Regions from separate parts of the Homo sapiens genome. Here region 1 is linked to region 2. The links come from fine-mapping of genetic effects on gene expression. Tissue or cell type: pancreas. Region 2 holds a variant in brackets; the other region holds the start of a gene. All regions are shown on one strand. Distances are from middle to middle.

Region 1 (5,000 bases), 25 kb before region 2:
ATATGTTGTATCTTTAAACAATACATCGTTAGGCCAGGTACAGCGGCTCACGCCTGTAATCCCAGCACTTTGGGAGGCTGAGGCAGGCATATCCTTTGAGCCTAGGAGTTCAAGACCAGCCTGGGCAACATGATGAAACCCTGTCTCCACTAAAAATACAAAAAATTAAGCTGGCATAGTGGTGTGTACCTGTAGTTGCAGCTACTCAGGAGGCTGAGGTGGGAGGATCTCCTGAGCCCAGGAGATATATACATATATATATAAATACATATATATGCGTGTGTGTGTGTGTGTGTGTGTATAATTTCTATTCTCTCCACCCCCAGAGGTGAGACTCTGCTTTCTGCCTGCCTTGGAGAAGGGTGGGCGAGATGAGCCGTGTCCCTCACTCCAAGTCACACTTCAGGTCTTCCACGTGGAGACCTCTGAGCTATCAGTGGACGGCGGGATTCCTGGAGCTGCTGGAACAAAGCCCCACAGGCTGGTGGCTTGGACAACAGCCTGTGTTCCTTCCCAGGCTGGGAGGCTCTGGGGAAGAACCGTTCATGCCTCTCCCGGCTCCTGGTGACCCCACGATTCCTGCACTTGCTGACTTAGGGCTGAGCACTCCAGTCCCACTGGCTGCTGTCCCCTGTATCTCCTCCATTCCTGTCTCCTCCAAGGGTGCCGGTCACCAGCTTTAAGGCCCACCCCAAATCCAGGATGATCTTATCTCGAGATCCTTAATTACTTCTGCAATGATTCTTTACCTAAAGAAGCCCCTATTCTCAGGTTCTGGGTGGACCTATCTTTTTTTTTTTTTTTTTTTGCGACAGAGTCTTGCTGTGTTGCCCAGGCTGGAGTGTAGTGGCACAATCTCAGTTCAGTGCAGCCTCAGCCTCAATCTCCTGGGCTCAAGCCATCCTCCCTCCTCAGCCCCCCAGGACACATCTTTAGAGGGTCACCATTCAACGCACTGTGGTGGGCAAGGCTGCTTTGAGTTTCCTGGTTAGGATACAACCAGCGCTGTGTGTGGATGTCCACACATGCCCCCGCCCCCGGCTGTACAGCCACCGGGAGACTGAGTAAAATGTGAACTGAAGGAGGCCCCAAGGGTGGCAAGCAGAGAAATGAAGGGAAATGTCCCTTACCCACGCCTCTCTCCTTCCCCCACGTGACACTTCTCACAGCAGGTACCGGTACGTGTGCACAGAGGAGAACCCAGTGCCCTTCAGGGAAGAGGGTGCTGAGCCCCTGGACCGCACTTAGGTCTCGCCCCAGCTCTGTGATTTGGACCTGGGCCCCCGAGCCCTAGTCACAGCCGGGGCGGCCCAACTCGCTCCGCCATCGGAAGGCTTCTGGTCGCTCTCAGGGAGGAGCCCCTCTCGTATGGGAATCGAGGTGTTCAATGCCCACGATGCGGAGACCGCCTGGCCCGAGTGGGCCAGTGATCTCAGCTTACAGTCCAGCTCCTTCCTCCCCATGGCTAAGAGGTCAGCACCAGCTCAGGCAAGTGGCGAGGGTGGGATGAGGATGACAGACGGGGTGGAGGCAGGTGGCTGCGAGGGGACAGTGTCAGGACCTCCTAGGAGATCAGGTGTGCTGCAGGGAACAGGGAGAGCCTAGGAGGGGACAGGAAAGTGAGGAGGGGGAGTGGAGAGGACTCCCTGGGCAAGAGACACGAGGGCCAGCACTCAGGCCTCCACAGCCATCCACTGCATGAGCCAAGCCCAGGGACAAAGCTCTGTGACCAGGATGCCCCCAGCAGCCTGACCCTAAGAGTTGAGAACTGTGCCCTGTGAGCAATGTGACCTGAGGGTCCCGGAGTCCTGCGGGGGCTGTGCTGTGTGAGGGCCACCTGTCCTTTAGGTGGGGTACTAAGGGGTTGTGTCCTCTATGGGCTGTGTCGTGGGGGGGCTGTGTGTCCTCTGGGGGGCTATGTGTCCTGGGAAGGTCCCTGTGTCCTGGGAAGGTCTCTGTGACCTGGCGGTCTGTGTGTCCTGGGGGGGCTGTGTGTCTTAGGGGGACCTCTGTGTCTTCTGGGGGAATATGTGCCCTGGAAAGGACTCTGTGTACTGGGGGAGGCTGTGTGTCTTAGGGGGGCTGTGTCCTGGGGGGGTTTCTGTGTCCCGGGGGGGCTGTGTGTCCTGGGAGTGCTGTGTCCTGGGGGACCTCTGTGTCCTGGGGGCACTGTGTGTCCTGGGGGGACCTCTGTGTCCTGGAGACTGCGTGTCTTGGGGGTCCTCTGTGTCCTGGGGGGTCTCTGTCCTGGGGACTGTGTGTCTTGGGCACCCTCTGCGTCCTGCAGGAGCTGCGTGTCCTGGGGGGGCTGAGTGACTTGGGGGCCCTCTGTGTCCTGGGGGTCTCTGTCTCCTGAAGGGGGACCCTAGTATTGTGGCGCTTCTGGGCTTGCCTCTCATGAGGGATGATGCACCGGGCCTCAGTTTTGGGTCAGCCTCCTTTACCGGCTCTCCCCCCTTCCTCCGACCGTCAGGTATCCGTGCCAAGCCCTCAACGGGCCATCCTCCTTCCCGCGGCGACCCCGCGCATGACAAGGCCAGACCCTCCCGCGAACGTGCTCTGCGCTCCCGCCTGGCCCCTCCCCGCCCCGCCCCTCCCCCTCCTCCCCGCCCCGCCTCGCTCCGCCCCTCCCCGCCTCCGCCCCGCCCCGCCCGCCCTGCCTCTCCCCGCCTTTCCTCGCCTCGCCCCGCCCCGCCCCGCCCCCTCCTCCCCGCCCCGCCTCGCTCCGCCTCTCCCCGCCTCATCCCGCCCCGCCCGCCCTGCCTCTCCCCGCCTCATCCCGCCCCGCCCGCCCTGCCTCTCCCCGCCTTTCCTCGCCTCGCCTCGCCTCGCCCCGCCCCGCCCCTCCCCGCCCTGCCTCGCCTCGTCTCGCCTCGCTTCGGTTAGATGCGCTCGGCGCTCCATAGGCTCCCTGGTGGGGCGCGGGCGCGCGCACGGACGTCCAGCACGCACGCACGCACGTCCAGCACACACGCACATCCAGCACGCACGCACGTACGTCCGGCACTTCCGGCCGCGGCGGCCTCAGCGCCGGCCCGAAGGGACCAGGCCGCCGTCCCCAGCGAGAGGCATGCAGCGCTGAGGAGCGGCGACCCAGCACGGCGGCGCCATGAACCTCCTGCCGTGTAACCCTCACGGCAACGGGCTGCTCTACGCCGGCTTCAACCAGGACCACGGTGAGGAGGCGCGGCCCTGTCGCCTTGCCCGGCCGGGCCTTCCCGCAGCCCGGGGTCCCCGGCTCTCAGGCCTCTCCTGGGCGCCCCTTTCCGGCCAGGCCTTCCACCCGGGACCCCGGCCCCGCCCGAGCTCCCCTCCGAAGCCCCCGGCCCCGGCCCTCGCCGCTGCTCCCAGCCCGAGCCGGGGTCCGGACCAGGCCCGAACCGGCTCCCACCTTCCTGGCCTTTCGCGCTCCCCCACCCCCCGGGTTGTGACCGCTCCCAGCCGGCCGTCCCGGGCCGAGGTCGAGGTCGGTGGGAGACGGCACAGAACCCCAGCCTCCTGCGCGGACGCCCCTCCCCGCGCGCCACGCCCACTCGGGTTCCCTGGCTCCCTGCGGGCTCCACGGTTATCGGGATTTTCCCCACAGCGTGATTGACGCCCTGCCCAGAACCCCGTTTTGCCCCCTGTTCCTTTCAGGGTCTTTAGTAGGTAGCCCGTGGCTGAGCTGACTTCGCTTGGGTTTACTGGAGCCGCGGAGCCGGCGTCTCCGACGCCTCTGGTGGCGAGTGGCGCGGGTGGGGTGCAGGTCTCACCTTTCCCGTCGGTTTCCATCGGAAAATGTCACTCTCCCCACCCCCACTCCCCGGGATTTTTCTTCGTGTTTGGTGGAGTCAAAGGACTTAAGGGAGGCCTTTGAGGGAAATCTTACTTCTTTTCCCATGTCGGAATCCAGGTGTAAGCACTGGATGATTTAAAGCGCCCAGGGAAGGTGACCTCCTTCCCCGCAGGTGCTTCGGAGCTGCGGGGGATGCGGCCGGGGCGGCGCGGTCGGATTCCCGCGGGAGGCGGGCGGGACCTGGATTCGGATGGTTGCCTCCTCACCTCCCATTTGAAGGGCGCGCTTCCCAAAGGTCCTGATGGGGAGGAAAAGGAATGTCCGTTATTCCGAGACAGGCTTCTGCGAGGCTTTACATGTTGGCTTTGGAAGTTTTGTTTTTGAAGAGAATCCAGGCAGGTGCTGTATGATCCCGTATATGTGAAGACAATTTTATTTATTTATTTATTTCATTTTGAGACGGAGTCTCATTCTGTCGCCCAGCCTGGTGCGATCTCGACTCACTGCAACCTCCTCCTCCCGGGTTCACGCCATTCTCCTGCCTCAGGCTCCTGAGTAGCTGGGATTACAGGCGCCTGCCTCCACGCCCGGCTACTTTTTGTATTTTTAGTAGAGACGGGGTTTCACCATGTTGGCCAGGCTGGTCTCAATCTGACCTCAGGTGATCCACCCGCCTCGGCCTCCCAAAGTGCTGGGATTACAGGCGTGAGCCACTGCGCCCGGCCGGATTACACATATTTGAAAGAACTCCCTCTCAGTGATTTTGATGCCTGATGCCCTGGGACCAGTCAGGCTTCCTGGGCGCTGCCAGCTTCCCCAGGGTTGTGTGCTGGGGTTTCTCCGGAAGAAAGTTTTGCTGAGATGGTAAGGGAGATGCCTAGCCTTCTCAGAGGGTGGTTTCCAACCATCTGGTGTTTGTAATGCCTTCTTTTTAGTGAAGTGTGCTATACCTGTAGAAGGGTGGATATATCATAAGTGTTCAGGTGATGAATTTTCCAAACTACACACCTGTCACTAACAATTAAGAAATTGAATATACCTGGCCACGCTTGATTCCAATAAATGCTCCCTACCTGACTTGTGACATCATAGATTAGTTTTGCCTACTTCTGTACTTTATTTTTGTACTTATTTTTGTTTCTAGCTGTTTTTTTGTTTTGGGTTTTTTTTTTTTTTTTTTTTTTTTGAGACGGAGTTTTCGCTCTTGTTGCCCAGGCTGGAGTGC
Region 2 (5,000 bases):
GGTCTTGATCCCTTGACCTCATGATCCACCCGCCTCAGCCTCCCAAAGTGCTGGGATTACAGGTGTGAGCCACTGCGCCCGGCCAACTTTCCTGCATTTTTGTGTGGGTTTGTCATTTTAATAACGTCAATATTTAAAGGCCCTTAGTAATGCAAATGTGGCCGGGCACCGTGGCTCATGCCTGTAATCCCAGCACTTTGGGAGGCTGAGGCAGGCGGATCACAAGGTCAGGAGTTAGAGACCAGCCTGGCCAACCTAGTGAAACCCCATCTCTACTAAAAATACAAAAATTAGCTGGGCATGGTGGTGCACGCCTGTAATCCCACCTACTCAGGAGGCTGAGGCAGGAGAATCGCTTGAACTGGAGGTGGAGGTTGCAGTGAGCTGAGGTTGTGCCACTGCACTCCAGCCTGAGCGACAGAGTGAGACTCCATCTATAAAAAAAAAGTAATAATAATAATAATGCAAACGCTTGAGCCAGATCGAGGATATTCTACTTTCAGACTTTTCTTATTTTTTCCAGACACAGTAGCATAAAAATATCACTTCTGTCTGTTTTGCTCGGTTCTGAACCTAGATGGAGTGTTTGATGATGTCTCTCTGAACCTCAGAGACGTCTCTTAGGCTGACCTTCACCCAGGCGAGAAGCACTCCCTCAGCAGAGCCAGCCCACGTGCACTCGCCGAGCTCCAGGCCTGGCGCTGGCTACCTGCCTCCAGAGCTTTTTCTTCAGGAACACTCCTTTTCTGTGTGGTATTTTCAGTGTTTCTCAGTTTCAGTATGATAAGAACAGGAGCATAAAATGTTTGGGTTTGACTCTTGAGGAAAGCAACTCTGATCATGTTTTTCTTTCCAGAATTGTGGTGGTTTTGGACTCCATGATTAAGGTGTTCACATTCACACACAATCCCCATCAGTTGCACGTCTTCGAAACCTGCTATAACCCCAAAGGTGAGAGATTGAGCAGACGGGTGGCGATGGGAAATGGGTCCACATGGAGATGCCTGTGCTGGGCACTCCCTTCTCCAAGCAGGTCTCTGAGCAAAGTGCTTGGCGAGAGCAATCCTGAGCACAGAGGGGCCTCCAGAGGAGATGGACCTTCCAGGACCCACAGCTCAGCATCCCCAAACTACCTTCTGACCAGAGTCACAGAGTGGGGGCCCCTGTCCCCTCCCACCCAGTGACTATGGGCTCTCAGAACCTCCACAGTGAACCAGGAACCTATGTTTTCACCACTTCGGGAGCCACTGAGTTCTGGACTCAAGCCTTTCCTTCCCTTGTCTTCTGAATTGGAGGATTGATTGTGTTTGACTTTGTCATTTATTGTACCATCTTCATATCTTTTTATATTGGGGGTTTTGCCTCTGGCTTTGTTAGGGTAAAATTTACAAAAAACTGACTCGTTTTAAGAATACCATTTGTGGCCGGGCGCGGTGGCTCACTCCTGTAATCCCAGCACTTTGGGAGGCCGAGGCGGGCGGATCACAAGGTCAGGAGATTAAGACCATCCTGGCTAACACGGTGAAACCCTGTCTCTACTAAAAATACAAAAAATTAGCCGGGCGTGGTGGCGGGCACCTGTAGTCCCAGCTACTTGGGAGGCTGAGGCAGGAGAATCACTTGAACCCAGGAGGTAGAGGTCGCAGTGAGCCGAGATCACACCATTGCACTCCAGCCTGGGCGATAGAGCAAGACTCTATCTCAAAAAAAAAAAACTTCAATAAATTTCCGTCATTGTAAACAGTTGTGTAGCCACCGTCACAGTCAAGACAGAACAGTCGGCCGGGCGCAGTGGCTCACGCCTGTAATCCCAGCACTTTAGGAGGCCAAGGCGGGCGGATCACGAGGTCAGGAGATAGAGAGCATCCTGGTCAACGTGGTGAAACCTCATCTCTACTAAACATACAAAACTTAGCTGGATGTGGTGGCGGGTGCCCATAGTCCCAGCTACTTGGGAGGCTGAGGCAGGAGAATTGCTTGAACCCGGGAGGCGGAGCTTGCGGTGAGCCGAGATTGTGCCACTGCACTCCCGCCTGGGCGACAGAGTGAGACTAAAGAAAAAAAGAACAGTCTCTTCTCCTGGAAAACTTTCTTGGGACAGTCCCCTCCCCACTCAACCCTCAGGTTTTGTTTTTTTACATGTATTTGTCCTCTGTGTGTGTGTATGTGTGTTACTTTGTTGGTCCCTTCGGCCGTGTTTTGGCTATTAGGAAGGAGGAGTGTCGTGCATGTTCCCATAGCAGCCTTTGTGTGGGTAGTTTCATGTCTCTTGGGTCGATCCTGAGGGTTCGACTGCCCGGTCACAACCATGTTGTGGTTGTGTCTGACTATAAAATGCGGCCGTTTATTTTCCAGAGTGGCTGTGTCCCCTTGCGTCTCATCCATGATTTATGAGTGTTCCAGCATTGTCGGTCTTTCTAGCTGTAGCCGTTCCGTGCGTGTGTGATGATATCTCACTGGTAACGGCATCTCCTTGTGGTTTTGGTTTGCATTTCTCTGAGGACTGGCGGTGGCGACATCTTTCCCTGTGGTTCTTCCCTTTCGAGATCTTTTGGGAAGTGCCCCAGATGTTTTGCCCATTTTTTAGCCGGTTGTTTATCTTATAATGAGATGTAAGAATTTTTTTTTTTTTTTTTTAATATGAGATGGGGTCTTCCTCTGTTGCCCAAGCTGGAGTGCAGTGGCATGATCTCGGCTCACTGCAGCCTCTGCCTCCCAGGTTCAAGCAGTTCTCCCACCTCAGCCTCCTGAGTAGCTGGGACTACAGGCACACCACCATGCCTGGCTAATTTTTGTATTTTTAGTAGAGACGGGGTTTTACCATGTTGGCCAGGCTGGTCTTGATCTCCTGACCTCGTGATCCACCTGCCTCGGCCTCCCAAAGTGCTGGGATTACAGGCGTGAGCCACCGCGCCCAGCCCCATTTTTTTTGTTTGTTTTTTTTTTTTTTTTGGAGATAGAGTCTCGCTCTGTTGCCCAGGCTGGAGTGCAGTGGTGCGATCTCAGCTTACTGCAACCTCCGCCTCCTGGGTTCAAGCGATTCTCCTGCCTCAGTCCCCCAAGTAGCTGGGATTACAGGCACCCGCCACCAC[G/A]CCTGGATAATTTCTGTATTTTTAGTAGAGACGGGGTTTCATTATGTTGGCTGGTCTCAAACTCCTGACCTCAGGTGATCCGCCTTCCTTGGCCTCCCAAAGTGCTGGGATTACAGGCGTGAGCCACTGTGCCCGGCCGTAAGAATTCTTTATATGTTGTAGATTTAGCCTTTTCCCTGGCACACTTTTGCAAGTATTGCTAAAAGATTTCTTTTATGTTTTCTTCTACACATTTGGTAGCTTTTCATCTAAAGTTAAATCTTCGATCCATTTCAAGTACATTTTGTATTCAGAGTGAGGCACACGCCTGGGTTCCTTTCTGTTCTATGTGGATATCTAAGCTTGGTACCTTTGTTTTGATTAAATAAATACAAGGTTTTTTTTCTGGACTTTTTGTTCTCTTCCATTGATCTGTGTTTCTGTCTTTATCCCAGTACCATCCTGCCTTGATAAGAGGTTTAAAGTAAATCTGAAATTAGGTAATATAAGTCTTGCAATCTTCTTACTTTACAAAAAAAAAAAAAATTTTTGGTCATGCCTGTAATCGCAGCACTGTGGGAGGCCAAGGCAGGTGGATCACAAGGTCAGGAGATTGAGACCATCCTGGCTAATATGGTGAAATCCCATCTCTACTAAAAATACAAAAAATTAGCTGGACATGGTGGCAGGTGGCTGTAGTCCCAGCTACTCGGGAGGCTGAGGCAGGAGAACGGCGTGAACCTGGGAGGCGGAGCTTGCAGTGAGCCGAGATCACGCCACTGTACACTCCAGCCTGGGTGACAGGGCCAGGCTCCGTCTCAAAAAAATAAAAAATTTGGGCTGTTCCAGTGCCTTTATTTTTCCTTATAATTCTTAGTATCAGCTTGTCTTTCTTCAAGAACCCTTTCTGAGAGGTTAGCTGTGATCACACTGACTGTAGATGAGTTAGATAGTAATAGCCAATCTTCCAGCCCACGATCACAAGACCAGCTCTCTCTCAGATCTTCTGTGGTCTTCCTTTGCAAGATGTTACAGTCCATGGATAGGTCTTGTACATCTGTTAACTTATTCCTCCGTTTTTTAATATTTTTACGCTGTTGCTGATGGAGCAGCTTTTAAATTTTATAATTTTGCATTGCATTTTCGGTGGCGTGTACCCTGACGGACGGACAGTTGGTAAAGTCGTTAATTTTGCATTGCATTTTCGGTAGCGCGTACCATGATGGATGGACAGTTGGTAAAGTTGTTCAGCAGATGTCTTGATTATGAGGAGGTCTCATGCGAGGTAGCTTTGCTTAGCCCTCTCATACTCTTTATTTACAATGAAAAATCTTTAAATTGAATTTGTGGTTCTGATATTTATAAATGATATACATCTATTTTTTCGGAGAACTTTGGGGGCAGAAAGTGGACTTTGGCTGTGAGAAATCAAAGGCAGTTCTTGATTGGTGTCCTCTGTCTCCACGCAGGCCTCTGTGTCCTTTGTCCCAATAGTAACAACTCCCTCCTGGCCTTTCCGGGCACGCACACGGGCCATGTGCAGCTTGTGGACCTGGCCAGCACGGAGAAGCCACCCGTGGACATTCCTGCACACGAGGGTGTCCTGAGCTGCATTGCACTCAACCTGCAGGGAACAAGAATTGCAACTGCATCCGAGAAAGTAAGTGTGCCACTCACCTTGTTGGTGTTGTGCCTCCTGGAGCAGCAGGCTCAGCAAAATGGCCATTCCCTGTATCAAGACTCAAAAGGCAGTGGGCCTGCCCCAACCTGGAGCCCCTCAGGGGCCTGTGGACCTGGCTGGTCATGTCATCAGACAGGTTGAAGTCTTCACAGGTCGTCTTGTGCCCAGGGACTGGTTTTATTTCTAATTATTTACAAAGCAGTGTCTTGTAAAATATGATAAGCCAAAGAAACAGGGCCAGGGGCAGT

Evidence for each region. PIP is the estimated chance that this variant, and not a neighbour inherited with it, causes the effect.
Region 1: it holds the start of WDR45B, and the variant in region 2 is fine-mapped to the expression of WDR45B in pancreas (GTEx, PIP above 0.99).

The regions. Positions count from the first base shown.
Region 1 is chr17:82,646,450-82,651,449 of GRCh38, reverse strand. WDR45B (WD repeat domain 45B) reads left to right here and starts at 3,006. Exons shown (of 10, transcript NM_019613.4): 1 at 3,006-3,176. The coding sequence starts at 3,110. RefSeq lists enhancers at 2,414-2,483, 2,862-3,361 and silencers at 2,774-2,843, 3,444-3,493, 3,504-3,553.
Region 2 is chr17:82,621,340-82,626,339 of GRCh38, reverse strand. WDR45B (WD repeat domain 45B) reads left to right here. Exons shown (of 10, transcript NM_019613.4): 5 at 857-951; 6 at 4,541-4,731. Among named protein-coding and RNA genes, the nearest start is that of WDR45B, 25 kb to the left of the region's middle. The variant G/A (reference allele first, on the strand shown) is at 3,093.